2 separate regions of the Homo sapiens genome follow, and region 2 is linked to region 1. A link means that fine-mapping ties the variant in region 1 to the expression of a gene that starts in the linked region. Tissue or cell type: aorta. Region 1 holds a variant in brackets; the other region holds the start of a gene. All regions are shown on one strand. Distances are from middle to middle.

Region 1 (2,680 bases):
GCCCTGTCTCTTCTTTTAACTAATCTGATAAATGTAGACATGCTGACAGTTTTGTGATAATACTCCCCCGCCTGGGGCTTTTCCATTTTCCTCTCCAGGAAGAGGGCCGTGTTTAGCATAGCATTCCTCAGTGTGAGTTCATGCCTTCATGGGCCTTATCACATGGGAGTGCTAGTGGCAAGCTCAAGGCCAGCTTGCTGAGTGGCAGGACAGAAAGGCAGTAGATTCCAGGGCTCTTGACTCCTGAGTCCAGCGCTGTGCTTGTCCCAGTGCTGCCATGGTGCCAGGTGTGGGACAGGACACTGGGGAGGCACGCACGTGACAGAGGCACTTCCTGGACCAGCTCGTGGTGGCACCTTGCCCACCACCAGACACCCCTCCCAGGGCCTGAGCACTGCCCCAAGCTCCCTGCAGGACAGCCATGCTCGAGTCTGGGACCAAGAGTGCTCTCTTTAAGGAGGCTGGGATCTCAGAGTGGGACTCTCAGCATCCAGATACCAAAGGGGGTCGTCCTCTTCCTCCCTCTTTTCTTCCTGCAGGGGTTTCTTGGGCCACAGCCTCACCTTTGCCCATCCCCCTCAGTTGGGAATTGTCTGAATTAAGAGTTAAAAAAGGTCAGATCTTGGAAGGATTGAGCCTCCTCTCCCAGGAGGCCCAGAGAAAACTTCAAGTCATAAACCTATTGTCCTGGAAACCCTCACTTCCCCTAGCTGTGCCTCGGTTTCCCCATCTGTAAGCTGAGGAACCTCATCTAGCTCTAGAAAGTAAGTCTATGGATTGAGAAACATCATAAACTCCTGCCATTTACATATGAAATACTTCTTGTAATTCCCTCTCCCCTCCGTCCACCCTCCTGTGGGGTCCTCCTCGTGTCACTCCTGTGTGATTACAGTAGCTTCCTAAGGTGTCTCCTGGACTCTAGTACTTCTCCTTCACGTCTGCCTGGAGAAATCTTTGTAGGTTCTGCTCTCCTCATGTCCTTTCCCTACTTTCAAACTTGGGATGGCTTCCTGCTGCTCCTGTGTAAGGTCTGTGTCACATCTCTTCACCTCTGCCACAGAGACCACTTGGGATTTTCTAGAGTACTGGAAGTTTTACTCTTCCTAGCCTTTGCTTTTGCCATTTCTTCAGCTAAAATGCCTTTCCTCCTTCTCCTGATGATGACATTTTCTGCAACCTGCAAGACCTAACTTCTTCCCACCCATCTTACTTCTCCTCTTCTCCCTTGATGCTCCTATTGTAAGTGCCTTTGTGCTTTTTTTTTTTTTTTTTTTTGAGACACAGTCTTGCTCTGTCATCTAGGCTGGAGTACAGTGGCACAATCAAGGCTCACTGCAACCTCCATCTCCTGAGTGTGAGAGATTCTCCTGCCTCAGCCTCCCGAGTAGCTGGGATTACAGGCACTGGCCACCATGCCCAGCTAATTTTTGTATTTTTAGTAGAGACGGGTTTTCACCATGTTGGCCAGGCTGGTCTCGAA[A/C]TCCTGACCTCAAGTGATTCACCCGCCTTGACCTTCCAAAGTGCCGGGATTACAGGTATGAGCCACCGCGCCTGGCCTGTGCTGGTTTTTTTTTTTTTTTTTTTTTTGCATTGTATCATAACCAGTTAACGTACTTGATTTTCATCACTATAAATCCCATTGTATGACCAATCATCCCAAACATTTAGCATTTTCCTTAAGTTATAAAAGTAAACCAGGCGCGGTAGATCACTCCTGTAATCTCAGCACTTCGGGAGGCCAAGGCGGAGGATCGCTTGAAGCTAGGAGTTCAAGACTAGCCCTGGCAACATAGCGATAATCCGTCTCTACAAAAAATACAAAAACACTTTGGGAGGCCCAGGCGGGTGGATCACCTGAGGTTGGGAGTTCAAGACCAGCCTGGCCAACATGGCGATACCCTGTCTCTACTAAAAAATACAAAAATTAGCCAGGCGTGGTGGCGGGTACCTGTAATCCCAGCTACTCAGGAGGCTGAGGCACAAGAATTGCTTGAACCCGAAAGGCGGGGGTTGCAGTGAGCCGAGATAGTGCCACTGCACCCCAGCTTGGATGACAGAGTAATACTTCATTTCAAAAAAAGGAAAAAAAAACCCCCAAAAACAAAAAAACTAAACAAATACAAAAAATTAACTGGGCAGGTGGCACACACCTATAGTCCCAGCTACTCAGGAGGCTGAACTCAGGAGGCTGAGGGGAGGATTACTTGAGCCTGGAAGGTCAAGGCTGCAGTGAGCCGTGATGTGCCACTGCACTCCAGTTTGGGTGACAAAGCAAGAGCCCGTCTCTCTTGGGGGCGGGAGGGAAGCGCACTCTTGTAACATCTCCAAATGGTTGAGAAGTAAAGTGAAACGCCCCCCTTCTCTAACCCTATTGGTCAGTCCTGCGACTCCTGGGTAATGGCTGCTAATGGTTCCTTATGTGTTCTTCCGCCCGTACGCCTTTGCATTTTCAACGTGTATGCATGTACCAAAATTGATGTAACTGGCCTCCATTACGGGACATTTAGGTTGTTTTCCATTATCTACTGCTGTAAATAATGCTGCAAAGATCACCTTCAGATTCAAATATTTCTGCAGGCAGCGTCTTAGAAATGGGATTGCTGGGTCACAGAGAACATCCACTTAAAATTTTTAATGAACACTGCCAAACCGTCGTCAGGGAAGACTTCCAGCAAGTCTC
Region 2 (2,680 bases), 87 kb after region 1:
TTGTGACCAAGATAAATGACCATTTGGTCTAGTGGGACCCTTGGGGCAAGGGCCTTCATACCATCTGCTCTGGGTGGAGAGAGGGAGACCTTCTTGATGACCCGAGAGCCCAGTCCTCCAGGGAAGTGCAGCTGTCATGTTCTCCTCTTGGCGAGTGAGTGAATGTTTGTTCCTGGCTACCCTGAACGCAACAATGTGCAATTATTAAGTACTCACCCCCTTGCCAGACACTGCTGAATGCTCTACACACATTACCATCCAGTGTTCACAACACCCCTACAGGGTGAGGATCAGTACCTCTGTCTTCTGGATGAGGAAACTGAGCCGCAGAGAGGCTGATCACTCACACAAAGTCACCCAGCAAACACACAGCAGGTTCCTCTGACCCAGGAAACTGCTGTGCTAACCATTCTGCTGTGCTTCACTGTGTGGGATGGAGGCAGCAGCTGCTTGCCCATACATCGGGGACGAGGCTTTCCCAGAATGCCTGGAGTTTTCAAGCCATCCACTGCTCTCTGCGCCCCAGTCCAGGAGTGATGGAGAGCTATAGTCGGGAATCAGAGATTCCAGGTGGAGATGAAGGCTGACTGTTCCTCTGCTTCAGAAATAACCATTTGGTCAGAACTGAGGAGCATCAGAGGTTCAGCCAGACAAAGCACCTTCCTAGTCTCCAGATGAGGAAACAGGCCACTGGGGTGGGCAGCCTCAGTCATGTCAGATGTGGTGGCAGAGCTGGGACTCCTGGCCGTCCTCTCCAGCCCAGGGGCCACTGATCACATGATATTGCTCTGCTCATGCACCCTGCTTCTCCTCCACTCCACTCTGAGAGGTTCATCAACCAGTCCCTGGTGCCCATGAAGGCCAGGCCTGTGGAAGATGCTCAGTCAATATTTGTGCAGAGGATACAGGCCCAAGGTGCTCGGCTGGCCAGCTCTGTCCCCATCCCTCATCCATAAAAGCAGTGGTGGCTCCAGATTGCCACCTAGAAAGCCAGGGGCAGTCTGGTAGGAAGAAGGTGGGCAGTGTGGAGGAGCGGCCTAGAAGACGGTCAGCCAGCAAACCCACTCTAAGGTCCCATTAAGACACCCCCTGACCCTGCCCAAGAGGGACAACTGCAGCGGGGACAAATGATTCATCCCCACACTTGAGAAGCAGAGGGGCGGGGAAGGAGGAAAGGCTAGGGGTGTGTGTCAGGGTATTGCACACAGAGATGGTTGGCTTCAGTTCTGGGTTCTGAAGTCCCTCTGTGCCGCTGGCTGGGCAAGAGGTAAAGGACAGCTGGGCCAGGGGCCAGGCTGGGACTCCAGCAGGACTTCCGCGGCGAGGGGCGCTGGGGGGGCGAAAGGCTTTGGCGGCCCGGCCAGCAGCGCCCTCGGGGGTAAGGGGAAGGGAGGCTACGCGGAGAGGTGCCAGAGACAGCCGGTGCCCTTGCCCGCCGGCCGCCCGAAGTCCGGGTGGTGGGCGTGGCTGCCCCCGGCGGGTGGGTGGGGGCGGGCTCCGGAGCCTGGCTGCGGAGTGGGTGTCCAGGGCGCTCGCGGCTGGGGCGGCGCGGGGGGCGGGAAGGCGCGCGCCGAAGGGGTGGGGAGGAGAAGGGGCGGGCGGCTCGGGGGTGGAGCCGGGACCGCAGCGCCTGCCGCTCGCTCGGAGCTGTAGCCGCCGCTGCCGCCGCTGCTCTTGGCTCGGGGACGCGGGCGGGCGCTCCGAGAGGCTCTGGTGCCTGCGGCTGCTGCTCTCCTCCGGCGCCCGGGGCTGCGGCGCTCCGGGTCCCGGCCCCTGTCCCGGCATCTCTCGGGTCCCTGAGCCCCGGCCCCGGGTCCCGCGTCCGGCCGGAGAGAACGCACTCAGCTGCTCGAGCCGCCCCGGGCTCGCGCCCCCGGGCCATGAAGAGGGGCCCGTGAGGCGCGCGCGGAGTCGGAGGAAGAGGAGGGAGGAGGGAGGCCGAGGAGGAGGGCGCGGGAGGCGGAGGATGCCGCCGCGGCTGCTGCCGCCGCCGCCACCCGCGGGTCCCCGGCGACCCTGACTCCAGACCCGAGGATGGAGCCGGCGCTGGGCGCTGCAGCTGCTCCCGGCGCGTCCCCGACCAGGTATTGGCCGGGCCCCGCGGGCTCCGGGGCGGGCGGGAGCGGACACTCCGCCGCAGCAGCCGGGAGGGGCGCGGGCGCGGTGGGAGACGCCCCTCCGCTCGGGGACAGCAGCTACCGGCGGTGAGCGGAGGGGTGGCGGCGGCGAGGAACGGCGGCGTGTTGGGCGCAGGAAGGGGCTGCCGGGGCTGGTGGCCGGTGAGCGCCGCGATCACCTCAGCCCTCCCTGCCCCCATTCGAGGAGGGCAGCAAACTTGAGACGCGCGGTGGCCCCCGAGGCGCTTGGCTCCCCTCCGCTGCGGAGCGCACTCAGGGGCTGCTCCGGGCTCACCGTCCCACGACCCGCCTGGCTCGGGTCTGCGGAGGCGCCTTGAGACCCTGAGGTCCCCGCGCCCGCACCAACTTTCCAAACCCAGCTGCACCCGGAGGCGGGGGCGCCGCTCCCTGCTTCCTGCTCCCAGCCCTGGCCCGGCCTCCGCACCCAGACCGCTGCGATGAGCTGGGCCCCTGTGGGGCCGGAGCCGCCGGATGGTGCAGAGCCCACCACGGAAAGCCGGAACAACCCTCCCGCTCTTCTCTGGGTAGGACCCGGGGATCAG

Alleles and levels. Positions count from the first base shown, and alleles are read on the strand shown. Sizes are in standard deviations (SD) of each study's normalised expression.
For the expression in aorta of the gene that starts at base 1,640 in region 2, A is the high allele of the variant in region 1 and C is the other (small effect, 0.29 SD a copy in GTEx).

The links. PIP is the estimated chance that this variant, and not a neighbour inherited with it, causes the effect.
Region 2: it holds the start of CHST1, and the variant in region 1 is fine-mapped to the expression of CHST1 in aorta (GTEx, PIP 0.94).

What each region holds. Positions count from the first base shown.
Region 1 is chr11:45,751,983-45,754,662 of GRCh38, reverse strand. No RefSeq gene overlaps it. Among named protein-coding and RNA genes, the nearest start is that of LINC02690, 1.7 kb to the right of the region's middle. The variant A/C (reference allele first, on the strand shown) is at 1,481.
Region 2 is chr11:45,664,582-45,667,261 of GRCh38, reverse strand. CHST1 (carbohydrate sulfotransferase 1) reads left to right here and starts at 1,640. Exons shown (of 4, transcript NM_003654.6): 1 at 1,640-2,084.